Linked DNA regions of Homo sapiens. The protein of the gene in region 1 purifies or fractionates together with the protein of each later gene. This does not show direct contact. Each region holds a gene or a part of one and is shown in the gene's direction. Other genes may lie near its edges.

Evidence for each region.
Region 2: the proteins of CTCFL (region 1) and NOL6 purify together in Homo sapiens (affinity purification with mass spectrometry; one large-scale study listed by BioGRID and IntAct). This does not show direct contact.
Region 3: the proteins of CTCFL (region 1) and PHKG2 purify together in Homo sapiens (affinity purification with mass spectrometry; one large-scale study listed by BioGRID and IntAct). This does not show direct contact.
Region 4: the proteins of CTCFL (region 1) and DDX55 purify together in Homo sapiens (affinity purification with mass spectrometry; one large-scale study listed by BioGRID and IntAct). This does not show direct contact.
Region 5: the proteins of CTCFL (region 1) and RBM6 purify together in Homo sapiens (affinity purification with mass spectrometry; one large-scale study listed by BioGRID and IntAct). This does not show direct contact.
Region 6: the proteins of CTCFL (region 1) and ANKRD44 purify together in Homo sapiens (affinity purification with mass spectrometry; one large-scale study listed by BioGRID and IntAct). This does not show direct contact.
Region 7: the proteins of CTCFL (region 1) and PCYT1A purify together in Homo sapiens (affinity purification with mass spectrometry; one large-scale study listed by BioGRID and IntAct). This does not show direct contact.

What each region holds. Positions count from the first base shown.
Region 1 is NC_000020.11:57,522,075-57,526,564, reverse strand, and holds the start of CTCFL (transcriptional repressor CTCFL), read left to right. Parts: upstream 1-1,424; 5' UTR 1,425-1,537; intron 1,538-1,867; exon of another isoform or gene 1,868-2,348; 5' UTR 2,349-2,359; coding exon 2,360-2,902; intron 2,903-3,286; coding exon 3,287-3,497; intron 3,498-4,490. UniProt on the Homo sapiens protein: Testis-specific DNA binding protein responsible for insulator function, nuclear architecture and transcriptional control, which probably acts by recruiting epigenetic chromatin modifiers.
Region 2 is NC_000009.12:33,460,834-33,464,220, reverse strand, and holds the end of NOL6 (nucleolar protein 6), read left to right. Parts: intron 1-59; coding exon 60-184; intron 185-300; coding exon 301-390; intron 391-779; coding exon 780-974; intron 975-1,086; coding exon 1,087-1,188; intron 1,189-1,407; coding exon 1,408-1,557; 3' UTR 1,558-2,868; downstream 2,869-3,387. UniProt on the Homo sapiens protein: Part of the small subunit (SSU) processome, first precursor of the small eukaryotic ribosomal subunit.
Region 3 is NC_000016.10:30,751,311-30,755,125, forward strand, and holds part of PHKG2 (phosphorylase b kinase gamma catalytic chain, liver/testis isoform), read left to right. Parts: intron 1-238; coding exon 239-293; intron 294-1,921; coding exon 1,922-1,987; intron 1,988-2,083; coding exon 2,084-2,247; intron 2,248-3,815. UniProt on the Homo sapiens protein: Catalytic subunit of the phosphorylase b kinase (PHK), which mediates the neural and hormonal regulation of glycogen breakdown (glycogenolysis) by phosphorylating and thereby activating glycogen phosphorylase. May regulate glycogeneolysis in the testis.
Region 4 is NC_000012.12:123,611,968-123,615,782, forward strand, and holds part of DDX55 (ATP-dependent RNA helicase DDX55), read left to right. Parts: intron 1-1,153; exon of another isoform or gene 1,154-1,202; coding exon 1,203-1,285; coding exon of another isoform or gene 1,286-1,339; exon of another isoform or gene 1,340-1,998; intron 1,999-3,217; coding exon 3,218-3,349; intron 3,350-3,815. UniProt on the Homo sapiens protein: Probable ATP-binding RNA helicase. Has ATPase activity and is involved in the maturation of precursor large subunit rRNAs.
Region 5 is NC_000003.12:50,054,879-50,058,693, forward strand, and holds part of RBM6 (RNA-binding protein 6), read left to right. Parts: intron 1-2,849; coding exon 2,850-3,125; intron 3,126-3,523; coding exon 3,524-3,684; intron 3,685-3,815. UniProt on the Homo sapiens protein: Specifically binds poly(G) RNA homopolymers in vitro.
Region 6 is NC_000002.12:197,307,732-197,312,242, reverse strand, and holds the start of ANKRD44 (serine/threonine-protein phosphatase 6 regulatory ankyrin repeat subunit B), read left to right. Parts: upstream 1-1,462; 5' UTR 1,463-1,638; coding exon 1,639-1,665; intron 1,666-4,511. UniProt on the Homo sapiens protein: Putative regulatory subunit of protein phosphatase 6 (PP6) that may be involved in the recognition of phosphoprotein substrates.
Region 7 is NC_000003.12:196,235,509-196,239,323, reverse strand, and holds part of PCYT1A (choline-phosphate cytidylyltransferase A), read left to right. Parts: intron 1-429; coding exon 430-636; 3' UTR 637-3,815. UniProt on the Homo sapiens protein: Catalyzes the key rate-limiting step in the CDP-choline pathway for phosphatidylcholine biosynthesis.

The sequences.
Region 1 (4,490 bases):
CCAGCGCCCCTTGCAGGCCCCCCTCCACTCCTTATCCATTCCCCGCCAGCGTCTCCCAGTGCCCCTTGCGGCCATCCTCCCCTCCTTATCCATTTCCCCCCCAGGTCTCCCAGCGCCCCCTGAGGGCCCTCTTCCCCTCCTTATCCATTCCCCCCAAGGTCTCCCAGCGCCCCCTACAGGGCTCTCCTCCCCTCCTCATTCCACCCCTCCCCCCAGTATCTCAGTGCCTCCTGCGGGCCCTCCTCCCACCCTTATCCATTCCCCTCCCCTAGGTCTCCCAGCGCCCCCTGCAGGACCCCCTCCCCTCCTTATCCATTCCCCCACAAGGTATCCCAGCGCCCCCTGCAGGGCTCTCCTCCCCTCCTCATTCCACCCCTCCCCCCAGTCTCTCAGTGCCTCCTGCGGGCCCTCCTCCTCTCCTTATCCATTCCCCTCCCCCAGGTCTCCCAGCACCCCTTGCAGGCCCTCCTCCCCTCCTTATCCATTCCCCTCCCCCAAGTCTCCCAGCACCCCTTGCAGGCCCTCCTCCCCTCCTTATCCATTCCCCCACCCCTCGCCCCCCGCAGGGCTCCCAGGGCCCCCTGCAGACCCTCCTCCCCTTGTCCTCTCCTATTCATCCCCCAGGTCTCCCAAGAACCCCTGCAGACCCTCCTCCCCTCCTTATCCATTACCCTCACCTCAGGTCTCCCCGCCCCCCTGCAGGGCTCTCCCCTCCTCATTCCACCCCTCCCCCTGGTATCTCAGTGCCTCCTGTTGGCCCTCCTACCCTCCTTATCCATTCCCCTCCCCTAGGTGTCACAGGCCCCCTGCAGGCCCCCCTCCCCTCCTTATCCATTACCCACCACCCCCCTCAGGTCTCCCAGCCCCCCTGCAGGGCTATCCTCCCCGCCTCATTCCACCCCTCCCCCCCTCATTCCACCCCTCCCCCCAGTATCTCAGTGCCTCCTGTGGGCCCTCCTCCCCTCCTTATCCATTCCCCCTCAGATCTCCCAGGCCCCCTGCAGGCCCTCGTGCCCTCCTTACTTCCCCCCCGGGTCTCCCAGCGCCCCCTGCGGGGCCCTCCTCCCTTCCTCATCCACTTCAACCCCAAGGTATTTCCGTGCCCCTGCAGGACCCTCCTCCCCTCCTTAGGCGCTCCCCCACTACCCAGTCTTCCAGTGCCCTGCAGGCTCTCCTCCTCTCCTTATCCACCCCCACCCCAGGTCTCCCAGTGCCCTGTATGGGACCCTCCTCCCCTCCTCATCCACCCCCCCAGGTCCACCAGTGCCCCCTCTGGGGTCCTCCTCATCCGTGCTCCCCCTCCCCCTCCCTACTCCCCTTCCCCCCTGCCCCCACAGTACATCACCCCCTCCCCCAACCCTGCCTGGCTCCGCCCCCTTCACGCCCCCTCTTTTCCGCTCCGCGCCTGCGCACTGCCACCCTCCACTCTCGCGCCAGCCCGGCGGCGGCCGGCTGTGGGCTGCAGCACGCGGTGCACGAGGCAGAGCCCACAAGCCAAAGACGGAGTGGGCCGAGCATTCCGGCCACGCCTTCCGCGGTGAGGGGCCAGTCCCGGTCAAGCCCACCTGCTCTCCTCCAAGAGCATGGGCTGTTCTGGGCGTGGGCGGAGGGAGGGGCTGGCCGGAAAGGCCCAAGGGCGGGCGGCAGACGCTGAGGGGCTGCCTGGGAGGGTCGGGTCGGGGCGGGGCGTGGGGGGCAGGGTAAAGCAGGGGCCCTGCCAGGCCTCCGAGGGAGTGTGCTTGGTCTGGCCGAGGGCTGCTTGGCCAAGTCTGGGTGGGCTCGAGGCCACTAGGCCCAAAGCCTGCCTGGCTCTGAGGGTGCTAGGTCTAGAACCGTGCACGAGGGGAATGCCTGCTCGGGCCCGAACCTCGCTGGGCGCCGGGTGTGCACTGGCCCGGGGCCTGCTTGGACCTGAAACTTGCTAGGCCCAGGATATGCACTGGCCGAGAGCCTGCTGGGCCCAAACCTTACTAGGCCCAGGATGTTCACTGACTGAACCGGCTCAGGCCTAACCTTGCTAGGCCCAGGATATGCACTGGGCCAGAGTGTGCTCAGGCGGAACCTTGCCAGGCGCAGGATGTGTGCTGGCCCTAAGCCTGCTGAGGCCCAAACCTGTTCGTTCTAGGGTTTTGTACAAAATCCTGCTTTAGCCTAAATCCTGCTTAGCCTTGACCCCCTCCTAGACCCAAGCCAGATCAGCATTGTTCTGACCCTACTAAGTCCAAAACCTTTTGAGGCCAGACCTTGTTTCAACTCCAAAGCCTGCTAGGTTCCAGCACCCCCCGCATCCCTCCTCATACCACCCCCTTCTCCCCCCTATGGAAACCGCTTGCTTATTTTTCAAACAGGCCAAGTCATTATGGCAGCCACTGAGATCTCTGTCCTTTCTGAGCAATTCACCAAGATCAAAGAACTCGAGTTGATGCCGGAAAAAGGCCTGAAGGAGGAGGAAAAAGACGGAGTGTGCAGAGAGAAAGACCATCGGAGCCCTAGTGAGTTGGAGGCCGAGCGTACCTCTGGGGCCTTCCAGGACAGCGTCCTGGAGGAAGAAGTGGAGCTGGTGCTGGCCCCCTCGGAGGAGAGCGAGAAGTACATCCTGACCCTGCAGACGGTGCACTTCACTTCTGAAGCTGTGGAGTTGCAGGATATGAGCTTGCTGAGCATACAGCAGCAAGAAGGGGTGCAGGTGGTGGTGCAACAGCCTGGCCCTGGGTTGCTGTGGCTTGAGGAAGGGCCCCGGCAGAGCCTGCAGCAGTGTGTGGCCATTAGTATCCAGCAAGAGCTGTACTCCCCGCAAGAGATGGAGGTGTTGCAGTTCCACGCTCTAGAGGAGAATGTGATGGTGGCCAGTGAAGACAGTAAGTTAGCGGTGAGCCTGGCTGAAACTACTGGACTGATCAAGGTACAGCTGGTTTTAATAAACAACCCCTTACATGAAAAAGAAAAAATTCAAGTCGGCTTTTATGCAATATTATGTCTGGACAAGGTATTTTGCAGTTGCAAATTAAAGACAGTACAAATACTTCCCAGGAAAATCTTGAGAGTTCTTAGGTTCTTTTTTAAAAAAGAGTTTTAAAAGTGGTGCTAATTGGAATAGTGTAAGGCGCATTATGTTTTAAAAAAAAGTGTTAAGTTTCACTGCCACAACCCTGATGCGAAATAATTAACATTGTGATGCATAATCTTCCACTTTGGCTTTTCTTTTTGTATTCTGTGCTTCATCCAGGCAAAAGTCTAATTATACTGAAATCAATAGTATCATATTTGAATATTTGTTGTTTATTAGCTCGAGGAAGAGCAGGAGAAGAACCAGTTATTGGCTGAAAGAACAAAGGAGCAGCTCTTTTTTGTGGAAACAATGTCAGGAGATGAAAGAAGTGACGAAATTGTTCTCACAGTTTCAAATTCAAATGTGGAAGAACAAGAGGATCAACCTACAGCTGGTCAAGCAGATGCTGAAAAGGCCAAATCTACAAAAAATCAAAGAAAGACAAAGGGTAGGCCAGTTCATCTCATAGAATACACTCCCTAAAACTGGGCTGCTGTTTTTCTTTATGGGCAGGTGATGGTAATTGAAGTTTTAAGTGGTTGACTTTTACTTTCAAAATGTCAGGAAATGGGAGAAATTTTAAACTAATGTTCTGTATTGTGAATCAAATCCAGAAGGGTTTTGCACTTTACACACAAACGTTTTGAAAGCACAGTAAAAATGTTCCCACAAAGCCTTGTGCACGTAAGCATAGAAGACCAAGCCCTGGTCTCTGCTGCCTAGTTTGCAGCCCCAGAGGGATATGGGGGACAAGTCATTACAGGACAGGTGGTGAGGCCTCGTGTGCTTCAGGGCCAAGAGAAGGAGTGATTCCTCCTTCAGGAAGCCGTAGAGGGTGCCTTCTAAGGGAGGTGATATTTAGGTGAGTCCAGGACAAAGAAGCCACTAAGATGGGGATCAGGATTCCAAGTACTAGGAAGTGGTCTGGGCGTGTAGCTCTGGAAGTATTTACTTTGTATCTGAGGGTGGAGAGCTCTACTGTGTCTGTAGAGCTGGGTGGGTGCTCAGAGAGGTGGATGGGTCCAGATTAGGAAGACCCTGAAGCAATATTAAAGCCATATTAAACTGAGATTTCATTCCAGCAGCCCACAGGATGAATTTGTCCTATGAAAATAATTTGTTTGGCTTATTTTTTAAAAATATTAGTTTCTCACTTATTTAAATCAACATATTTCACCCCCAAAATTTCAATTTCTAGCTCTTTTAAATTATATCTGGCAACACTTGGCACAGTTTTCCTTCCTCCTGGCATCAGGTGCCTGGGATTGGAAGGTGACTCAGTTTAGAAAAGGAGAATGCCAACCAAACACTGCCACCACCACCCCATTCTTACATGTGGTCAGGGCCCTTCACTTAGGTTTCTTGCCTCTGCCTTCCATAGGTGGTTGAGTTTGCAGCCTTTTGGTACATAGTAGTTTCTCATATGTTTAAATCAAGAGCT
Region 2 (3,387 bases), on another chromosome or scaffold:
GAGTAGAGGGTGTCTTACAGGGAGGAGCAGGCTGACCCAGGACCCATTCTTGTCTCTAGTGGAGGAGCAGGTGGAGATCCGCAGTGGCTTCCTGGCAGCTCGGGCACAGCTCCCCGTCATGGTCATTGTTACCCCCCAAGACCGCAAAAACTCTGTGTGGACACAGGATGGACCCTCAGCCCAGGTTCAACCCCATACCTGCCCCCTAATGTGTGGTTTTCTTCCCAAGGAAAAAGCAGGCCCAGCCTGACCTGGGAGAGACCCACTTCAGTTCCAGTCTGATGTGTCTGTACCCCGCAGATCCTGCAGCAGCTTGTGGTCCTGGCAGCTGAAGCCCTGCCCATGTTAGAGAAGCAGCTCATGGATCCCCGGGGACCTGGGGACATCAGGGTAAGCTTCTGACCAGCAGTGACTCCAGGGCCTCTGGGGATTCTGTCTTTGGAAGTTCAGCGTTCAGGGATCTCACAGGAGACCCGGTCCCCTTGTTTGGTGAGACTGAACAGAGGAGGTGTTGAAGCTGCTGTGGTGCCTGGGGTGGCAGAGCCTGGGGAACCTGGGTTCCATCTGGGTCTCCTGTTTCTAGCCTGTGCTCCTTCTGCCGGGCTATGCAACAGCTGTTTGCTCTGTGGGTCTTGGTGCTTCAGTCTTCAAATGGGCAGGTGGGCCCATAGAGGGTGGTCAGATGGAAGGAGGAAACCAAGGTGGGCGTGTGGAGAGGTTTGTGGTCCAGTTCCTCAGTCAAGGGGGTCCTGCTGACCCCTCCTTCTCCCCTTCCTTAGACAGTGTTCCGGCCGCCCTTGGACATTTACGACGTGCTGATTCGCCTGTCTCCTCGCCATATCCCGCGGCACCGCCAGGCTGTGGACTCGCCAGCTGCCTCCTTCTGCCGGGGCCTGCTCAGCCAGCCGGGGCCCTCATCCCTGATGCCCGTGCTGGGCTATGATCCTCCTCAGCTCTATCTGACGCAGCTCAGGGTTGGTCCTAAACAGCTGAATGACCTGGGGAGGGGACTTCCAGGTGAAGCTGAGGCTGTGGAGGAGCTCTTAAATGCCTGCCTATAATCTTCTCTGTTCTGTCCCTTTCTAGGAGGCCTTTGGGGATCTGGCCCTTTTCTTCTATGACCAGCATGGTGGAGAGGTGATTGGTGTCCTCTGGAAGCCCACCAGCTTCCAGCCGCAGCCCTTCAAGGTGTGCTGGCTGGTGACAGCTGTGTTCCTGAGTGTGTGCACGTGGTTCTGTGTGGGCATGCATGTCTGTGTGTAGTCTGTCCTATGGGCAAACCCGTGTCAGGTGCGGAGTGTATGGGCTTGTGTTTCTATCCCCACCACCCCCACTCTGTACCCAGCTTGGTGTCTCTGGGTGTGCCGCTGTGACACTCAACCCACATCTCTTCTCTGATTTCCCCAGGCCTCCAGCACAAAGGGGCGCATGGTGATGTCTCGAGGTGGGGAGCTAGTAATGGTGCCCAATGTTGAAGCAATCCTGGAGGACTTTGCTGTGCTGGGTGAAGGCCTGGTGCAGACTGTGGAGGCCCGAAGTGAGAGGTGGACTGTGTGATCCCAGCTCTGGAGCAAGCTGTAGACGGACAGCAGGACATTGGACCTCTAGAGCAAGATGTCAGTAGGATGACCTCCACCCTCCTTGGACATGAATCCTCCATGGAGGGCCTGCTGGCTGAACATGCTGAATCATCTCCAACAAAACCCAGCCCCAACTTTCTCTCTGATGCTCCAGCATTGGGGCAGGGGCATGGTGGCCCATGTAGTCTCCTGGGCCTCACCATCCCAGAAGAGGAGTGGGAGCCAGCTCAGAGAAGGAACTGAACCCAGGAGATCCATCCACCTATTAGCCCTGGGCCTGGACCTCCCTGCGATTTCCCACTCCTTTCTTAGTCTTCTTCCAGAAACAGAGAAGGGGATGTGTGCCTGGGAGAGGCTCTGTCTCCTTCCTGCTGCCAGGACCTGTGCCTAGACTTAGCATGCCCTTCACTGCAGTGTCAGGCCTTTAGATGGGACCCAGCGAAAATGTGGCCCTTCTGAGTCACATCACCGACACTGAGCAGTGGAAAGGGGCTATATGTGTATGAATAGACCACATTGAAGGAGCACAATGCCCTCCTGTGTTGATGCCACTTCCCAGGGTGGAGACAGTGGAAAAGAACCGAGGACAGGAAAGGATTGGGTAGGTGAAGGGGTCAGGGGACTGGTAGTCACCCAATCTTGGAGAGGTGCAAAAAGCACTGGGGGCTACCCGTTAGCTGCATCTGCCCTGGCTGTTTGCCCGTTCATGTCACAAACTGCCACTACTATGTACCTGCAGTGGGGTTGCAGAGATGGGGGAGACTCAAGTCTTACTCCCCAGGAGCTCCCAGGGCCCAAGGAGGAGAATGCTGCCTCCTTTCAGTCTGGTCTACACCCACTTTCTGGTAGCCTCTCTGCTTCCTGTAATTCTGGCTGTTTTTCCAGACTCAGCTCAAATAGTGCCCCTCCTTAAGCCCATCCCTCGCCCCCAGCCTGAGGTGATCTTTCCCTCCTCTGAACTATTAGAGCAGTTACTGTCTGTTCAGTTCGTTTGGCAGGCACACACAGTGGCATAAATTCTATTGTTTTGAACTCTGATTTAAAATTAAATTGCAGCTGGGCGTGGTGGCTTATGCTTGTAATCCCAACACTTAGGGAGTCAGGAGAATCACTTGAGCTCAGGAGTTCTAGACCAATCTGGGCAACAGAGAGACCCCATCTCTTTTAAATAAAAAGTTAAATTGCTTAATTTCCCCCGTATTCCTGGCCTGTCTGCCCCTTTCACATAATTTTAACCTGGTTTCTTGTATGTAAACTCCTTGAGGGCAAGAACATGTTTGAACATAGACTTCTTCGTGTCCTTCCTAGCACCTATTACAGTGCTTTGCTCAGGGGCCATCCAGCACAGGCAGATGGGGGGCAGAGAAGCCCACTGGAAGATTGCAGAGTAAAGGGAATCCATTTGTGAAATCTGCCTGCAAGAAGTGGGTGGTGACGGTGAAAGAGAAAGCCTAAGAGATTATAGAGTTGACGTTTATTGAGGGCTTAATAGGTGCCAGGCGGGGTTAGGTGGTGGTATCCGTATCTTATGTGCGGAAACTTGTCGTACAGTCATAACGAGCCGTATGGAGTAGGTACTTTCATTTACCTTCATTTTCTGAGTGAGAGAACAGGCTCAGCGCAGGGGCCCGTTGTGTGAGGAACTTTGATGCCTGGCTAGCAAGCTCCATCCTCAAGATGAGAAGCTGCATGTGGGAACTCTGGCCTCCAGTTCTGTCTCAACTGTTGGTCTTTGTGAATCACTGCTTGCCTCTACTGTCACTGCCATGGAGCAGCTCAGCCCAGGGTTGAAATTAGAATAGGGAGG
Region 3 (3,815 bases), on another chromosome or scaffold:
AGACGACCCCCCACCTCCTGCTGGCCCTGCCCATAGCCCACTTCCGCCAACATTGCCTCCACACCTCTCCTCCCTTCATTCCACTAAAGAGTGGCCATCCGTTGGGCGCCCACTGCCTCCTCTGGTTCTCCTTTCTTCCCAGTAACAGCCCGCTGCTGTCCCAGGGTGGCCAAGCCCCGTTAATGTGCATCCACTCCTTTCCATCTCTGTCTCTCTGCCTCTCTTCCTCTCTCCCTAGTCACCCTCATCGATTCCTACGAGTCTTCTAGCTTCATGTTCCTGGTGTTTGACCTGTGAGTATCTCCCTGCCACCATCTGAGAAGCCTCCTCCCCACCTCCATGTATGGCCCAGCATTTGTGGTGCAGTGGGCTGGACCCATCCTGCTCACACCTTCCTGTTCCAGCTGGGGCTCTCTATCACCTGGGCCTGCCTGCTAGCGCATGGCTCTGGCCTTCTCCCTTGGTGCCATGATTGAGGCAAATTCTTTAATAGTGACTAGTGGCTGGGTGCAGTGGCTCACGCCTGTAATCCCAGCACTTTGGGAGGCCGAGGCGGGTGGATCATGAGGTCAGGAGATCGAGACCATCCTGGCTAACACAGTGAAACCCCATCTCTACTAAAAATACAAAAAATCAGCCGGGCGTGGTGGTGGGCGCCTGTAGTCCCAGCTACTCGGGAGGCTGAGGCAGGAGAATGGCATGAACCCGGGAGGCGGAGCTTGCAGTGAGCCCAGATTGCGCCACTGCACTCCAGCGTGGGCGACAGAGTGAGACTCCATCTCAAAAAATAAAGTAATAGTGACCAGCCAGACGTGGTAGCTCATGCCTGTAATCCCAGCATTTTGGGAGGCTGAGGCAGGTGGATCACCTGAGGTTAGTAGTTTCAAGACCAGCCTGGACAACATGGCGAAACCCCGTCTCTACTAAAATACAAAAAATTGGCCAGGCATGGTGGTCGGTGCCTGTAATCCCAGCTAATCGGGAGGCAGGAGAATTGCTTGAACCCGGGAGGCGGAGGTTGCAGTGAGCTGAGTTCGTGCCATTGCACTCCAGCCTGGGTGACAGAGCGAGACTCTATCTCCAAAAAAAAAGAGAGTGTTCAGCAGTGGACTGACCACTTAGAAAATAGATCCTCACTCACCAGCCTCTCGCGCTGCTTAACACGCTAACTATTCTGGTGTCTGTCTCTGCCCATCAGTTCTTTTTCTGGTCAGAATCTGAATGTCCGATGCAATTGGTATAATGCAAACCAACTGCAAAGGTATTTTGAAAGAGAATGATTTGAATTCCAAAGATTTAAAAGAGGCCCTTGGAAAAAATTCATGAAGGCTTCGATATATTTACAGAAATGGCCCTCTGCAAAAGTCAGAGGGGACGTAAGGATGTCTATTATGCCATCCTGCAGCCATGCAGAGTGCCTACACTCCCCAAAACAGCACCTGATAATGTTACTTTGAGGACTGATGCAGAGTGCAAGTATAACCTCAATTTTGAAAGTATTATTTTTAATTGACACATAATTATAACCTCAGCTTTTAAAGACGAAACTTCAAAATAAGGTCCTATTCAACCTTTGTGCCACAAAAAACTGAAATTTTGGTCCATTTTCTTTATAGATTCACTTTGAGAGGCCTTTTTCAGGCATAGTTACTCTCAACAAGAACCTCCTATAAATTATATTGTCACAAGAAGTCTCTTATTTTTGCCATAATTGCCCCATCATGGCATAATGCAGGTATTTCAGCTGCCAACACACCAGGCCAAACTGCCTTGTTGGAGTGCTGTGTTTCTAGACCCTTTGGTTTGTCTGCAGAGATCTATCTTTAGTGGCCTCTTCCACAATATTTTGTATGAGCACTGGTCTGTTTTCTCAGCCCCCACTGTGGGATGCAGCTGCCTCCTATGCCCCTCCTTCCCTTAGGATGCGGAAGGGAGAGCTGTTTGACTATCTCACAGAGAAGGTGGCCCTCTCTGAAAAGGAAACCAGGTAAGGGTTGAGCCTGAAGCCCCAGGGGTGAGCAGGGGGTGGGACAGGGCAGGGAGGAGCCGAGGAGGAGACTGCACCCGCCTCCCCTTCCCCCAGGTCCATCATGCGGTCTCTGCTGGAAGCAGTGAGCTTTCTCCATGCCAACAACATTGTGCATCGAGATCTGAAGCCCGAGAATATTCTCCTAGATGACAATATGCAGATCCGACTTTCAGATTTCGGGTTCTCCTGCCACTTGGAACCTGGCGAGAAGCTTCGAGGTGAGGGGATCTAGTGCCCTAATAGGCTTGGGAGGGGAGACCCAGGCCTGATGAGATTGGTTGGCTGGGTCTGAGTACCAAGTCCCTGGTGCCAAGAAAAAGGGAGAAGTCATTGGGCACTTGCCAAGTATCCTGTGGGCGCAAAGCCTATGTTTACCTCAGAGTGGGCATCCTGACCTGGGAGGATGGAGACAGACAAGCAGGCAGACAGACAGTGGTGCACAGTGGGCAGAGGGCCAGGCCAGGGGAACCCGGAGGAAGGAACGCCAATTCAGCCTGAGCCCCATAGAGGAGGTAAAAAAGGGAGCCACATGTTCAGCCACGTTTGGGGTCTGGAGTGCAGGACCACAAGAGCCTGATGTGATGTGTCCAGACTGCACTTCCCACCTGGGCCCTGGGCCTCAGGTTCACCTGATGTGAATACAGTTGTTGTGACAGGAATGTTTCTACTGCAAATGGGAAACTTCAAATAAAATTCACCTGTGGGATTCTTCAGAGCCTTTAGTCTGCCACTGACTCTCTCCCTCAATGGTTTGTACTAGACTTATGAAAAGCTACCGTTTACTGGGCATTCACCTGTGAGGCAGGCACCAGTCTTTTTTTTTCTTTTTTCTTTTTTTTTTTTTGAGACAGAGTCTCACTCTGTCACCCAGGCTGGGATGCAGTGGCATGATCTTCACTCACCGAAATCTCCACCTCCTGGGTTCAAGCTATTCTTCTGCCTCAGCCTCCCAAGTAGTTGGGATTACAGGTGCCCACCACTACGCCTGGCTCATTTTTGTATTTTTAGTAGAGATGGAATTTCACAATGTTGGCCAGGCTGGTCTTGAACTCCTGACCTCAAGTGATCCTCCTGTCCCAGCCTCCAGAAGTGCTGGGATTACAGGTGTGAGCACTGTGCCTTGTCGGCACCAGTCTTTATATGGCTTATTCCCCTAAATCCTCTCCACAGCCCTGTGTGACAGACAGTATTTGTGTCTCTTTTTTTATAGATTGGCTCAAAGAGGTGAGATGACTGCTCTAGGGTCCTAATGCTAGGATTTGAACTTGGACAGTCTGACTCCAGAGTTAATACTCTTAACCTGTGGACCCACATGTCTGGTGGATGTTGTACTTTAAAACCCTTTGGCTTCCACATGTACTTTTCCCGTTTGTGGAATCATCTTTGCCTCTGCCCACTGCATCCTCTCCTTGGCTTGGGTAATTCAGGCTTCACTTTAAACCTCCAGGGCAGCTTAGGTCCCCTTGCTTTCTGTTCTCCCATCTTCTTCATTCACAACACGTCTTACTGTATTGTTATTTCTCACTTGCCTTCAGGTAGACAGTGAGCTCGGTAAGGGCTCATCTCATTTGCCACTTGGCAAATCAGTGCAACTTGGCATTCAAGAAATACTTGGTGTAGGAATGAATTTCCCAACAAAGTCAGTTTCAATTCGGGGCTGTTAAAATCTCCTGGAAGTGTGCCATGGAACAAGGTTCAGAAAGTACTGGAAGAATTGGTGCCCGAGTGGTAGAACAAACTAAAAATACAGACTTGAGCCAAGCGTGGTGGCACGCATCTGTCACCC
Region 4 (3,815 bases), on another chromosome or scaffold:
CGTAGGGTTGCTGCAGGATTAATTAATTAATCCATGCAAAAATGTTCATGATAGTGCTTAGTACACAATAAGTATGGGTTGAGCATTCCTAACTTGAAATTCCAAAATCCAAAATCCTCCAAAATCTGAAGCTTTTTTGAGTGCCAACATGATGCTGAGAGGAAATACTCGGAGCATTTTGGATTTCGGATTTCCAGATTAGGGATGCTCAGCTGGTAAGTATAGTGCAGCTATTCCAAAATCTGAAAAAATTCAAAAGCCAAAAAACACTTCGGGTCCTAAGGACCTTGGATGAGGGATACTTGTACTACTGTTAGCTTTGGACACACTGTGGCTACTGTTGCATTCTGTTATTTTGCATTCGTTTTGCATTTAGAGATGGCTGAGTACATGAGAAAAAATTCCAAACTGGGGATTTGGTTTTGGTAAAAATAGGATGAATGCATTCAGGTGAATTTAATGTCTCTAATTTGGGAGTTTGAATGGAGGACTTGATTGCATTATGAAGAAAAGCAGTGGGGTCTGCGTCCATGGAGGCCTTTTAAATAATGATGTACATTGCTTTCTGGAAATCAGTATTCACCTTAGAGCAGTGACTTCTGAACTTGGCATCAGAATTTCCTGGGGGAACTCTTAAATAATAGGGATTCTTAGGTTCAATCTCAGACCTACTGAATCAGAATCTGTATGTCGTACCCAAGAATCTGCATTTAAAAAAAAAAAATCTATCCTTTGGCTGGGCGAGGTGGCTCACGCCTGTAATCCCAGCACTTTAGAGTTGAGGTGGGAGGATCGCCGGATGCCAGGCCAGGAGTTCGATACCAGTCTGGGCAACATATTGAGAGTCTGTCTCTTGAAAAAAAAAAAAGAAGAAAAAAAAAGGTAAATAAATAAAAATCTACCCTGGAGATGGTGTAATGGCTGGCATGTATATTGGGATTGGGAGTTGGGAACTGTTGCCTGTTGGATGACTGTGTTTCTCTGAGCTATATGATTTTGTGACATACAAATTAACTTTTACAGGCAGCAGCACATGTTGATATTTATTCTGAGCTAGGTAGACCAGTTAACATTCCGACTAAAGTCTGTCCTACCCATGGGGGAAATGACATTCCTTAAAATTTAATGCTGAAACTGAAAATAGCCATGGGGATTATTATTGCCAAATATGTTTTTTATTAGTTTCCCTTTTTATTTTGCAGGTATGCAAGGCAGATGAGAAATTTAATCAGCTGGTCCATTTTCTTCGCAATCATAAGCAGGAGAAACACCTGGTCTTCTTCAGGTACTCCTCTGGTCTCTGTGGTAGAGGCATCAGGGATTCAGCCAGAATGTGCAGGTGCATGCGGCCTTTGGGTTTTGGATTCCATCTAGCATGGTTCTCTCCGGAATGCTTTTGGCTGCAAATAACTGAAAACCCAACTTTTGTTGTCCGAACAAGGTTGGCTTTATTTTTCTCCCGTAAAAAGTCGTCCAAAGGCAGGCAGTTTCTCACATGGGTTTCATGTGTCAGTCATGTCAAGGTCAATGTTGATGTGATTGGTCTTCTCTTCCTATGTGTCACCTCATGGATTCTGGATGACCACTATTACACCCTGTCATGTCTCCACTGAAGAAAGATAAGGGGGGAAAGGCAGAGGGGGCTTAGGGCAATGTTAGCTATATCCATGCCTTTTAATCAGGAGAGCAAAGAGCTTCTTCAGAAACCCCTCTGCCCTAGTTGACTTCAGCTGTGAATTCATCTTAGGGGCCAAAAGTGGGTCACGTGGTGGCCCCTCACTTCAAGAGCAGCAGAGAAAATGAGTGCGCAGCTTTTCTGCCTCTGTAGTAGTGGCCAGTGAAGCAAGAAGTGGTTGGGAATAGTGTTTATCAGCCACCCATGGAGTCCGCCACAGTGGGGTTTTGTCCTGTGGTCAGAAGGCAGCGTAGGGACAGATGCATATGTTCTTTGGACTGGTTGGTTCTTTTCCCCTTTTCTCCAGAGATAAATGTGTTGATCTTTAGTAGTACATAAAAAATAATTTTATATTTATTTATATATTTATATTTATAATTTCTTTTCTATCTGTTATCCTACAAATAAAATGCAATATTGACCATGACCCACAGTAAGAAGTACAATTTGGTACACACCCAAACAAGACAATAAAACAAAGGTTTTCATGAAACTGCACCCTGCTAGGTGGGATGTTTTCTATTCTGTTCTACTCCAGCTGTTAATTTTTTTAAAATGCTGGTCGAGACCCACTAAATTGATTTCAGAACCCACCAGGTCTGTGGGTTGTGAGGCTTAGTGTGTGAAACACCACTTCATTACATACTATGTGACTCAAGGTGGAAAAGAGCGGTCACAGCACAGGTGGAGGGACTGAAGTAGACAAGAGTTAGCCCAAACTGGAATGCAGTAGTGCAGTAGTCTGGTCTAGTGGGAGGAGCATTAGACCTGGGTTCTGGTTCTGCCACTTACTCTGTGTCTCTGGTAAGTTTTAGTTCCCTCATCTGCAAAAGGATGGGAAGTCACTTGGGAATGCTTCCAGTTAAGGAAAAGGGTCCAGGGTGAACTTTATTAGAAGGGTGCCGGGTAAGGAGCTCACAGATTCAGAGAATGTTGAGTGTCCAGCTCCCAGGGAAGGAGGCTCCCTGGCAGGAGTTCATGGGCCATCTCTTTAGGGCATATCTTTATTGGGATGACTGCCAACCCCTTTTTGTCTTTGGATGACTCAGCTCCAAGTCCCAAATATCTGGGAGAAGGGATCTGACTGGCCTAGCTTGGGTTATTTGCTGAGCCCTTGGGAATCCTGCTAATTGGGAAAGAAGCAGTTCCCTAAACGGAAAGCAGAAATGTTTTTAAATCTTGTAACACTATTTGTGGCTAAGATGTCATTGCTTTTGTTCTGAATGACTGTTTCACTTTAATTCCTTTCTCGGGGTCAGGGAGATTTCCCGTGAGAACATCTTTAGACAGTAAAATATGTCCTTGGGGGTTTTAATTCATGTTTAAGGGATTTTGTCAAAAGATTGGCCTTTCATTGGCTGAGAGGATTACAGATTGAGAACTCAGTTGTGGATGATTTCCACTGCCATTTTCCTTGTCATTCCCCTAGGGAGGGCTTGTAGTTAGGTTGCGTCTGCTGCAGCTATTGCTCACTGTTCCCCTCTCCCGGTTGTAGAAGGACCAAAGTGGCCAATGACTCTAAGCCCTCTGTCCCTCTTGCAGCACCTGTGCCTGTGTGGAATACTATGGGAAGGCTCTGGAAGTGCTGGTGAAGGGCGTGAAGATTATGTGCATTCACGGAAAGATGAAATATAAACGCAATAAGATCTTCATGGAGTTCCGCAAATTGCAAAGGTGGGTGGGCTTCATTGAAGGTAGCAGCTCTCCTGCCACACTGCTCTTTCAGGTCCCCAAATGCCCCATTCTCTAGTAGCCTGTGCTGTCCGCATGTGTTGTCTTTCCTGCCTGGAACCCTCTTCCCTCTCTAATCTGGTTATCACATCTCTGTAAACACCCCGAGCCTCCATTGCCCTGTTCCAATTGCTTTGCCTTTTGCTATGTCATTTCCCTAGTTACTGAACTTCTGTGCTAGACAGCAGGCTCCGTGACACAGGAGTCCTGTGTATTGTCTTCACTCCCAGATTGCCCTGTGCCCGGTCCAGGGAAAGGTTGTGATGACTGTCAAGCAGCAAGGAGCAAATCCATTTGTCCTGTCTGGGTAGAAACTGTCTGTGGCTTAAGGCCGGACACGGTGGCTCACGCCTGTAATCCCAGCACTTTGGGAGGCCGAGGCGGGTGGATCACGAGGTCAGGAGATCAA
Region 5 (3,815 bases), on another chromosome or scaffold:
AGTGGCGCAATCTCGGATCACTGCAAGCTCCGCCTCCCAGGTTCACGCTGTTCTCCTGCCTCAGCCTCTCTAGTAGCTGGGACTATAGGCGCCCACCACCATGCCCAGCTAATTATTTGTATTTTAGTAGAGACGGAGTTTCACCGTGTTAGCCAGGATGGTCTCGATCTCCTGACCTCGTGATCTGTCTGCCTCAGCCTCCCAAAGTGCTGCGATTACAGGCGTGAACCACCACGACCGGCCCAAACCTTTCAAAAGTGCAATTTGAGCTAGGCATGGTGGCTAACGCTTGTAATCCCAGCACTTTGGGAGGCCAAGGCAGGTGGATCACCTGTGGTCAGGAGTTCAAGACCAGCCTGACCAACATGCCGAAACCCTGTCTCTACTAAAATTACAAAAATTAGCCACAGGTGTGGTGGCACATGCTTGGAATCCCAGCTCCTTGGGAGGCTGAGACACTAGAATCGCTTGAACCCAGGAGTCAGAGGTTGCAGTGAGCTGAGATCTCGCCACTGCACTCCAGCCTAGGCAACAGAGTGAGAAAAAAAAAATTGCAGTTTGGTGCCCAACTTAACGTAACCTGTTAGTAAATGATTTCAGATCTTATTTTCACCAGAGGAAAGAGATAGGGTTGTGGGCTCCTAGGCTAAAGTGGCTAAGTGGGCAGCTGAGCAGAGGTCAGTATATTGTTATTTGGAATACATTTAAGGATTAAGGATGTTAGGTTGAAAAAGAGTCTTTATGACATCAGTCTGTGTGGCAAACCTTTCTCCCACTCCTACTTCTTTGAAGTTATTGGGAATCATTTGCTCTATTGTTTTCTCTTTTACATTCTGTAAGCATTTCAGGATTTTCAAGAGAAAAACATTTGTTAAAATAACAGTAAAAACATAAATAGGAGAAAATAATCAGGATGTGGGGAACATTTTATTATTTTAGAGGAATAAAACTACCAGCTTCTCAAGCACTTATCTTTAATGTAAATTTCTTTAGAGAAATTTCAGGTAGGCAACTTCGAAGAGTCAGACACATGCATCCATAACAACAGTCCTGTAGTCATCCCTTAAGGAAAGCCACAGCATGACCATAAAATATAGTTCAGTGCAGGGATTCAGGTAGCCTTCTGTTTGTTGCAAGGTTAGAGTTTAATGTGCCTACAAGGAGTTTCTTAGGTGGGCTTTTGTCCTCTTGTGGAGATTTTACTCTGGTGAAGACTGAAAGGCAGGTGTTCTGAAAATCTTTAGGGGAAGGCTGTGTATGTTCTAGAAACCAAACCAAAATGTGGGAAGGAGGATGAACAACTGAGATTTTTGCTTGTTAGGTCACTTCAGGTTAGGCAAAGTTGTGTTTTTTTCCCCCCACAAGAAACACTTTTTTTCAAAGCTATTCCAGCAAATGAATAGATAGTTTTTTGTTTTTTTTCTTTTTTTTTTTGAGACGGAGTCTTGCTCTGTCACCCAGGCTGAAGTGCAGTGGCGCAATCTCGGCTCACTGCAAGCTCTGCCTCCCAGGTTCACGCCATTCTCCTGCCTCAGCCTCCCAAGTAGCTGGGATTACAGGCACCCGCCACCGTGCCCAGCTAATTTTTTGTATTTTCAGTAGAGACAGGGTTTCACTGTGTTAGCCAGGATGGTCTCGATCTCCTGACCTCGTGATCTGCCCGCCTCAGTCTCCCAATGTGCTGGGATTACAGGCGTGAGCCACCGCTCCCGGCCATGAATAGATAGTGTATGAAAACCACTGGGCACCATACCACTAAGATGAGACAGCTTTAATCTGGAAACCTGTCACTGCTATTATGTAATCTCTATATTGCTCTCATATAATACCTCTTTTTGAGCCACATGGATTCCAGTGAACCCTCCAAGAATGAATTAGTTACAAGAATGTGCCCCTAATTATAAAACAAACTATAAAGACAAATTATCCTGCTGTAGTAGGACATTTGAAATAAATCATTTATATTTTGAAGGACGTCTGCCCATTATGTTTATTTGCATATAAAGGAGCTACGTGCAGATAGGGTCTGTTCCTAGCTTCACTGGAGGAGGGCCTGTGGTCTTACAGGATATGAGTAGCTGTTTGAGCACTGTAACACTGGAAGAAGCAAGGCTTCTAGATGTGTGTTTGGGATATGTGTTTCTACTAAACCTTAAGTAAGGGCCATATCTTCGGTAATTTTGTCCCCAGATGTGTTGTTATCATTGATTATGATAGTCAGGTTCAAGGTGTCATGAAGGATTTGTTATATTTAAATGTTTAGTAGGTGATATAGAGATTTCATAAGATTACATTTTTTAAATGCTTGGATAGTTTCTTCTGTGAACTATTTCATGTCCTGTCTCAGCTTCACTTAAAATATTTTGTCAGGAACTGTCAGAGGACTTTTTATTAGATATTTCTGAGATAATATTAAAAGCATTCCAGGCCGGGCGTGTTTGCTCACACCTGTAATCCCAGCACTCTGGGAGGCCGAGGCAAGTGGATCACCTGAGGTCAGGAGTTCGAGACCAGCCTGGCCAACATGGTGAAACCTCGTTTCTACTAAAAATACAAAAAATTACCTGGGCGTGGTGGTGGGCACCTGTGATCCCAGCTACTCTGAAGGCTGAGGCAGGAGAATCGCTTGAACCCGGGAGGCAGAGGTTGCAGTGAGCCAAGATCATGCCATTGCACTTCAGCTGGGCAACAAGAGCAAAACTCCGTCTCAAAAAAAAAAAAAAAAAAAAAAGGCATTCCAGTATGAGTATTTGCTGGCAGGTAAGGAGAAATTACAGTAGCAGTGTTTTTTCTTTTTTTTTTTTTTTGATAAAGCTTTCTAGAGATTCTCTTTGTTTCTGTTCCACTAGTGACAGAGGCCAAGCAAGAATTAATAACCTACCCTCAGCCTCAGAAAACATCCATACCAGCACCATTGGAAAAACAGCCCAACCAGCCCCTAAGACCAGCTGATAAGGAACCTGAACCCAGGAAGAGGGAAGAAGGCCAAGAGTCACGCTTAGGACATCAAAAGAGAGAAGCAGAAAGGTATCTGCCTCCTTCTCGAAGGGAAGGGCCAACTTTCCGAAGAGACCGAGAGAGGGAGTCATGGTCTGGAGAGACACGCCAGGATGGAGAGAGCAAAAGTAAGTAGTTTGTCAGGGCACATACCAGACTGTGATCATCACAATGGAGCATAGATGGCCAATGTTATGTCCGGGAGCTATCTGCTTTCCAGTACCCTGAGAGATCTGTGCATGACCTGATGACAGAGGCCATTGCTGTCTGTGGACCTTCCTGTACTGCTTAAAGGAATCTATGCCCTTCAAATAGTAAATTGCTATATGAATGCAGTAAGGCATGATTTTAGATTTCTAAGTATTGGTGAAGAAAAGTATGCAGTATTTATTTGTTTAGCATTTTTTTACAGAACCAGCCTTGCTAGTAGCATCTATAGTAAAAAATGACAGTCAGATTCTTGGGACTTCAAAAATTTATCTTTCTCTCCCTTGTGTTGCCCTTCTCCCATTTATGGTTGATTCAGCTATCATGCTAAAGCGTATCTATCGTTCCACACCACCTGAGGTGATAGTGGAAGTGCTGGAGCCCTATGTCCGCCTTACTACTGCCAACGTCCGTATCATCAAGAACAGAACAGGCCCTATGGGGCATACCTATGGCTTTATTGACCTCGACTCCCATGCGGTGAGTTTCCTCCACCTTGGATTGGCCTAGAGACAGATGGCTAAAGAACCTTCAAGAAGGTTTGACTGGGGGCCGGGCCTGGTGGCTTACGCCTGTAATCCCAGCACTTTGGGAGGCCGAGGTGGGTGGAT
Region 6 (4,511 bases), on another chromosome or scaffold:
AATAAAGGTAAATTTGAGATTTAGCTGCTTCGACAACCAGAGTGGCTGGATGGTAAATGTGAGGATATTAATGCTCCTTTCTCTCCTGTCTCATGTGGAATCTTTGGGGGAGGTTCTAAGAGTAGGGAGGAAGAATGGACATTTGGTTTGTGAATATACAGTAGAGGCAGATGTTTGGTCTTGACCAAAGAATTCTGTAGCTCTAGTTTGCTCTTCAAAGCTGTTCAATGCTGCCCTACAGGTTTGCTCTATGGCCTGCCAGGGGCACATGGGGCTGCCTGGGAGCACTTCCTCTCCACTTGCTTACTTAATTCTCCCTTCTCCAGATCTCAACTCCTGTCACTTTCTCAGGGAAGCCTGCCCTCACCCACCAGTCTGGTCTGATTCCTTTGTTGTGGGTTCACTTCAGAAGCATGTTTTCCCTTGAGATCCCTTATCTCAGTTTGTAATTACATTCATTAGCAGAGACTATGCGGTTTATGTTGGCATCTTCTGAGAGCAGGTTATCTTATTTATGCTCTCCGTTTATTCCCGTGCCTAGCCAGTGCCTGACAAGGTAGGGACTCAGTACATAGCTGTTCAATGAATAAGTGTTTGCTCCAAATTCCAGAACTATCAACAGCTACTATGCTTACGAATATGCCCGTTGTATCTGTAGCCCATGGTGTTTGACAGCTGTCTTCTATTTGTTGAAGAGCTTGGTAACTTGGGATTTTGTAGAGATCAGTAAGGACTGGTGGGAACACCCAAAAGACCCATCAACTCGGTGATTTAGGACTGCTTTGCTTCTCCAGGAACTCCACTCCACCCCCACCAGCAAAAACCAAACCCAGGGTGTTTGAATTTAACAATAGTATGTGTGTGTGCATATGTGTGTGTGTGTTTAGCTGGAAAGTGGCTGGAGAACAAGGTGGAAGGGCCAGAGCTTCTGTTCCCTCCACCCATAAATGTTTGGCAAACACCCTGTAAAGAATCACAATGTGTCCGCTGCCTCCTGGCATTAAACAAAGGGAGCATCATAATTGCGGTCCCTGGGATCTTCGGGGCGCTGCCACCACCTGATTCTGGGTTAGGGGAAGGGGGCGTAACCCCATCTCCCCGGTTAAAGTGGACGGCATGTGAGTGAGAGCCTTTCCTGCCCCCTCGGGGTGTGTCCCCGCGGGCTTCCCCACCCATATGTGTGAGACCCGTCAGGGAGGCCCGCGATCCGCCCAGGGCCCGGGGCCGGCCCGGCCGGGCGCCGCGTGCAGGTGCGGAAGGCAGGCGGCGGCCCGGTGCGGGCGCGGGGGCAGCGCCGGGGGCCGGGCTGCGCGGCTCGGCTGCGGGCGGCAGGAGGCAGCGTCGGCCCAGGCGGCGGGCGGCGAGCGAGCCAGCGCGCGGTGATGTCAGTGGCGGCCCGGCTGGCAGCAGCCGGTACTTCCTGTGGAAAGGCGGGCGGGCTCGGCTGCAAACCCCACTAGCCAGTGTCAGCCTCTCGGCGGGAGGAGGCGGCGGCGGAGGAGGAGCAGGGGGAGGGCTGTCAAATTCGGGAGCCAGATTTTTTCCCTTCTCCTGGCAATCCCTTCCGCTTCCCCGGCTCCCGGCGTGACATCTGCGGGCCGGGGACCTGCATGTGTGTGCGCGCGAAGGAGCGGAAGAATGGCAGTGCTCAAACTCACCGACCAGGTAGCGGGCGGCGGCGCCGGCGGGCGGGACGCGCGGGCGCGGGGCGGCGCGGAGCCCGGCGGGGGGATGGGGGCGCGGCTGGAGCGCGCCCGCGAGCTGTTTACTCGCGGCGAAGGGGAGGACTGTGTGCGGCCGCCGGTGCCTCCGAGAGCCCGCGGCGGCAGCTCCCCTCCGCCGCGCCGTCCCCGCCCTGGGCCGTCGGAACTGCGCGCCCGAGTCTGGGGCAGGGCCCGTGGGCGCTGGGCAGCCGGCGTGCGGGAGTGCGGCGGCCGCGGGCCCGGCGGGGCTGGGGAGGGGGCCGGGGGCTCGAGGTGCTCTCGGGACTCGCACCGCGCCGCGTTGCGTGGGCGCCGCCGGCCCGGGCCCCGGGGAGGAGGACGCTGCACGAAGAGGGAGAAAGGATCGCAGACTGGGACCCCTCCCCAAACCTAGCAGGAGTCCTGCCCAGAATGCGGCTCTTGTGTGGCCGGGCTGTCTTTATTTATCCGTTGGATGTGACATCCGACTTCCTCTTTAGTTGCGCCAGGCTGTGTGCGTGGTGCGGGATGGGGACCCCTGGAGACCGCCCTTTCGGATCGGGCCGGTCCCTCTGAGGAGGAGGTGAAGTCGGCTCGGAGCCTCCACTCACAGGCGGTGGGCTACGGTCTGCCTGTGTCTACCAGCTTTGTTGGCTTTCCTTGCTGAGACACCACACAGGGCAGCTCTGGAGTCCTGGCTTGGAGAGGTGGGGTTATTTGCTGAATCGGATTGACAGTCCTCGCCGCAGGTCTGTGGAATGGTAACAGCCACCTTCGCGGACTCTGCTGCTCTTACATTGACACTAACAGGCACCAAACCAAGTTGCATGACAAAACTCTTTGCAGCTCTTTCCACGAAAAAAGGAAACGGCTTGCTACCCCCACCCCCGTTTATTCGTGGGTAGTGAAAGGAACTTTGTTTTGGGGTCCTGGTAGGCAGAGAGGCAATCTTGACTTTGACTACAGGGTCAGACTTGCCAGCCCTTGGTATTAAATACCTCAAACTTGTCCATGGGTTGCATCTGCTGCCTTGCGTTCTCCAGTTAGTATCCAGCCAGAACATCTTGCAACTGAAGTGCAGTCCGTCACCACAATGATTTGCAATGATTTGTTCTCCTGCCTTTTAGATTCAATTTTTTTAGCTTGTTTTTCCTAAATATTTACAGGTGTTTGGCGGGGTTGGTGATGGGGAAATCACTGAGTTAAAATTCATGTTATTGTTAAATTTAGTAAGAAGAGCAGCTGGTACTTGTGATGAATGTATTTGTTCTCATTGGTTCCAGAGCATTTAAAAGTGTAAGTTGATATCAGGATTTCCTTCACCTTTTGGTCACATACTTTGCCAACTGTTAGACATTTGCGTATTTTAAATCCTACAGTTTTAGCGTGTCTTGGGCCTGTCATCTTTGCTAGTACACGTTGCTGTACTTGTCTGTTAATCCCTAGATCTTCAAAGTACAAAGAATGGTTCTAATAGGTATTGTTATCACATATAAGAAAGAACATCACATAGAAGTTTAGAGTTGTAAGGACTCTAAGGATGATCTAGCCCAAACCCTTCATTTTCTAAATGACAAAACAGATCTGGAGAAGTGAAGCAAGTCTTCCTCAAAGAATGCCAGCTATAGGCCTGCAGGACTGGGACTAGCTCTTGTCTTCTGCCTTCCAGGTGCTTGTACTTTCTGCTACAGTTGGTATAGGATAGCTCCATCATCTCATTGGATGTGTTGTAAGGGTTACAAGAAAACATCTCTTCCTAGATCAAGATCAACCCTAGTGAGAAGTGTATTACTTGGTCTTACAAAGAGAGGAAGTTATTCTTCAGGGCTTATCAGAGCAGGAATTTCAAAGATGTTGCCTTTTAAGATGTTTCCAAGTATATTTCCTTCCTTCCCCCAATAAACTAGTATGAGTATGGAGAGAAAGGAAGAGTCACACAACGTTTATTTGGTTCCATCTCCAGATACGTAAAAAGAACCTAAGGCGTTTTAAGATTCAAGAACTTCTGAAAATGTCCAGTCTATCTTGGGACAAAGTCAGAAGGAGATGGGGTGGGGAAGTGGCCTGGGTGGGGTGGGGTGGTGAACAACGATGGTTTCTGTGTAGCTTTAGGTCCAGGAAGTAAGTGTGTGGTCTTTCTTGCCTTATATAGTCTTACCTTTTCTGTTTGAGACTCAATTCTTAGAAGTCAGTTCTTAACCTCACAGATTAACTTTTAAAACCATTTGCTTAGACCACTACTAGAAGAGTTTTGCTCCATCATTGTGGGCAGGGAGCCGCCCGCCTGCTTGGAATCCCTGCCTTAGAGTTTGTACAGGAGTACCTTGCTCTCCATTCAGCTTCTAGTAAAACAACCACTTCTTAATTTCTCCCTCCTTTTTTTTTTTTGTGTGTGTGTGTGTGTGTGTCAGGGTCTCACTCTGACTCGATAGTATGATCATGGCTCACTACAGCCTTGGCCTGCCAGGCTCAAACATCCTCCCACTTCAGCCTCCCCAGTAGCTGGGACTATGGGCGCGTGTGCCACCACACCTGGCTAATTTTTGTATTTTTTGTAGACACAGAGTTTCGCCATGTTGCCCAGGCTGGTCTCAAACTCTTGGGCTCAAACAGTCCACCTGCCTCAGCCTCCCAAAGTGCTGGGATTACAGGCATGAGCCACTGTGCCTGGCACCTCATCTGTTGAATGCCCTATTTGTGAAGTGAATCTTGATTTTTGCTAGGCCTCTTGGATTTTTTACTGTTGATAACCTGAAACACAAATTGTCTGGATTTGTCTTTAAATGTGGCAAAAGTCAGGGGTGACAGATGATGACATTTTCTCTCCAG
Region 7 (3,815 bases), on another chromosome or scaffold:
TCTGGTGACAAGATAAGCAAGTCGCCTTGCCCAGCTTTTATCTGTGGTATGATTTTAGATAGAAGGAAAGGAAAGAATAAAGAACAATAAAAAGAAAGCAGCCTCCACTACAAGTAGCTGCAGCAGGAACCCCAGGTAAGGTGGGAATTCTGTCTTTGAGGAGTAGCAGTCTTTTCAACCAAATAAAAGATTGAGCAAGTGAGTCCTAGGTTAGATATCAGGAAGGATCTGTCTGTGAAGGTGTTTGGATAAATTAGAATAATCCTAGACTAGATTATTGAGGAAGAATGGGGAATTTCCCGGGTGATGACAGCAGGGGAGAACCCTTAAATAAATAGTACAGCATAGACTATCCCAGTCCTAGATGCTTCAGTGATGATTAAGTAGGATCCACGGTGTTTTTCTGACTCTTCCTTTCGGTTTCTGCAGAAACATATGCTGAAAGAGGGGAAGGGCCGGATGCTGCAGGCCATCAGCCCGAAGCAGAGCCCCAGCAGCAGCCCTACTCGCGAGCGCTCCCCCTCCCCCTCTTTCCGATGGCCCTTCTCCGGCAAGACTTCCCCACCTTGCTCCCCAGCAAATCTCTCCAGGCACAAGGCTGCAGCCTATGATATCAGTGAGGATGAAGAAGACTAATGTTTCCTCCCTCCTTTCCTGTCCTCCCTTTCTGTCCCATTACCTTCAGAAGCTCTCTGTTGAATTCCAAATTGTGACCCCAACACTAAACCTAAGGACAGCTACAAAGGAAAGACAACTGGGGAAAGAAGACCTAGGACTGGGGGAACCCAAACAGCCTGTCCTGCAAGTGACATCACTCACCCACACGAAGGAGGGGGACTGCACCTTAGAAGCCTGCTCTGCATCCATTTACCCCCCCCCAAGGGCTTTGTTTCACTGTTTATGTTCACGTGATCTCAACAGGGAAATTGTCATTTTCATTAATTTTTTAAAAAATTCGTCTTTCAAATGTAGAACTAATTTTTTGCCCCTGAGGAGTGGGCAGAAGAAGGAGGTAGTGTAATACGCAGAGGCCTTTTCTTCCCGGTATACTATAGCATTTGCCTTCCGTTCTGAAGCTATGTGGCTTGCCAAGTCCTTCACGAAATGAGCCACGCTGATGGGTAATTTGTGGAGAAATATCTTAATTTTGATTTCCTTAAGGAAAAGCGAAAAGCAGAGTTACAGTCACAAATCCCCTGAACGTACTGCTGTCACCAGTGTCATTGTGGCTGCGGGAAGGAGATCTGAACCTAACTTTTCTTACTCCCTGAGGAGTTTCTTGTTGGACCCAATGGGGTCCATGAAGACACTGATGGGGATGGAAGCAGACCCATGGCATCAACTGCAGTGTTTCTGCTGTGTTCATCTTCTCAGAAAACTCTGTGACCCAGTTCTTTGGGAGCTTTTGTCAGTCTCTTTCGTGCCATCTACCTTCGAAGGAAGGAACACTTTTAGAGTTACAATGATGAGGAGAGGAGCGGGACAATACTCAATCCTATACCAAGTCGATTGAGATTAGTTTCCTACTGGGAGTAAGTGCCTGGCCCTGCTACTCCTATTTGAATGCTATTAATATTACCTAGCCTTTTACAAAGGATACTTTGTAAATGTCTGCTGTTGGAACTTGATGTTAATCCATTTTGGTCATAGCCATATTAGAGAGATTTGCACAGAATGTAAAGGCAAAAGCATAGGAAACACCTTCCTTTCTAAAGCAACAGCCTTATCACCTTGACCTCTGTCCCTCTTCAGAACATTCTTCCCTGGAACCAGTGCTCCACATCTTTCTTTTCCTCTGAGAGCTGCAGCTGGCAGGGACCTCCCTCTGCTGCTCCTCCAGCAAGCCACAGAGCATACCCTCACGTGACAAGAGTGTGGTAGGTTTTCTCCCCACTTTTCACACACGCCTGGTGGTTGTGGTTCCATCTGCCTTGTTGGCTTGCCCGGGGGGATTCAACACTTGACTTTCAAATCAAAGAATGCTAATGCTTAGCACTTGCTGTTGAGCATGCTCTAACTTTTAAAGCCCTGGCCTCCTGTCTCCTTAGCTGCTTAGCTACGCGGCCTAGCAGATCATCACCCATCAGTAATCCTGTGGCTAGATCCAGGGGAAAATTGCTTATGTCCAGGCCCCACCCCTGTCACTCATAAATACCCCTTGTGGGGGTGGAATTTTAGTGTTTTCAGCTAAGAAAACCACATTTTCTCTTTCCTTGCCTCTGCTAGGACTGTGAGCATCTCATAGTCCACTCCCTAAACACTTTCTGGTAACACCTAGTTTTCCGCCTGAGGGTCAGAGGCTAGAATCATTGCCTGCACAGCAGGACTACCTTGGTTCTTAAAACTTGGATCACCCAGGCAAGGCGTGGTGGCTCACGCCTGTCATCTCAGCACTTTGGGAGACTGAGGCTGGTGGATCACTTGAGGCCACGAGTTTGAGACCAGCCTGACCAACGTGGTGAAACCCCATCTCTACTAAAAATACAAAAATTAGCCAGGCGTGGTGGTGGGCACCTGTAATCCCAGCTACTTGGGAGGCTGAGGCAGGAGAATCCCTTGAACCCAGGAGGCGGAGGTTGCAGTGAGCAGAGATGGTGCCGCTGCAGTCCAGCCTGGGTGACAGAGCGAGACTCTGTCTCCAAAACAAAACAAAAACCACACACACATACAGAAATAAAGAGAAATAATCAACTAGAAAAAAAACAAAACTTGGATCACCCAGAAAGAGCGTCACAGAGGCGAGGGAGAATGAAGCCTCTTGTTATCCTGATCGCCTATGACAACGACATTTCTAACTCTTCTTTGAAGCGCAGTTCTTACTCTTAAATCTGGTCATACAAGCTTTGGCTTGGAATCCTGTCTGTCTTTGAAACAGCTGAAGTTAGTGTTTTCCTGTGTTACCCAGTGTTACATAGTCTCATCTTTGAACTTTTCTGCGTCAGCCTTCTCTCTTTGGGAATGCTGCCTGTTTCTGTCTAACTTATTCTCCCTGGTGTGGTGTGGCAGTGAAGTCTGTGCTGAAGCCCATCTGCTTGGTTCCTCCAAGTGCACATTATGCAAGTGTATTTGGATAGACAGGGAGATGCCCGGAACGTGGTTTTCCTCCTCCCTCCCTATTGGAGCCATACCTCCTAAATATATTGTCTGGGTCCCAAATGTTTGAGCCCTCTTCCTCTGCTCTCAGTGGGCTGCTCTTGGCATGCCCTGTGCTTGGAACGGGACCTGCAGGCTGACAGGCCTCTGAGACTGCTAGGGCCAGCAAACGTACATGTTATTGGGAAACTCCCTTTCCCCTTTTGGTGAGCTTCTACCACCTCAGTCTAATCGTTTTGACTGAAAGCTATTTGTCTGACTGAAAGCTAAAATCTTTTATAGTGTGGCCTGTTAGATACTTTGGGGTAAATGTGGTCTGAGGTGCTGGACTAGCACGGGTAGATGGAGAAAGCTGTTGGGAAGTTGCATAATGTGGTCATCTGTGCCTAATTAAATGAGGTTAGAGGTGTGCACACCACCACAATGCCTGGGATCTAAATCTTCAGATATTAACGTTTGAGGCTATGGAGCTGTTTCCCTGAATCACACACGAGAAAGCAGTCAACATGGGTGGGCCAAATGTGGCCAAGATGAGAGAGCCAGAAGTGTTGGCCTTAGAGCAGAGCCTCTGTGTGTGAGACATTAGAAGGCCAGAGCCGGGGAGGTGCCGGCGCAGCCACTGCCTTCCGGTGGGCCGGACGGAAAGCTTGGTCTTATGCTAGATTCAGAAGCACTGAAGAATGGAGGTTGACACTTTAGAGGACTAGGAAGGGATCATTTGT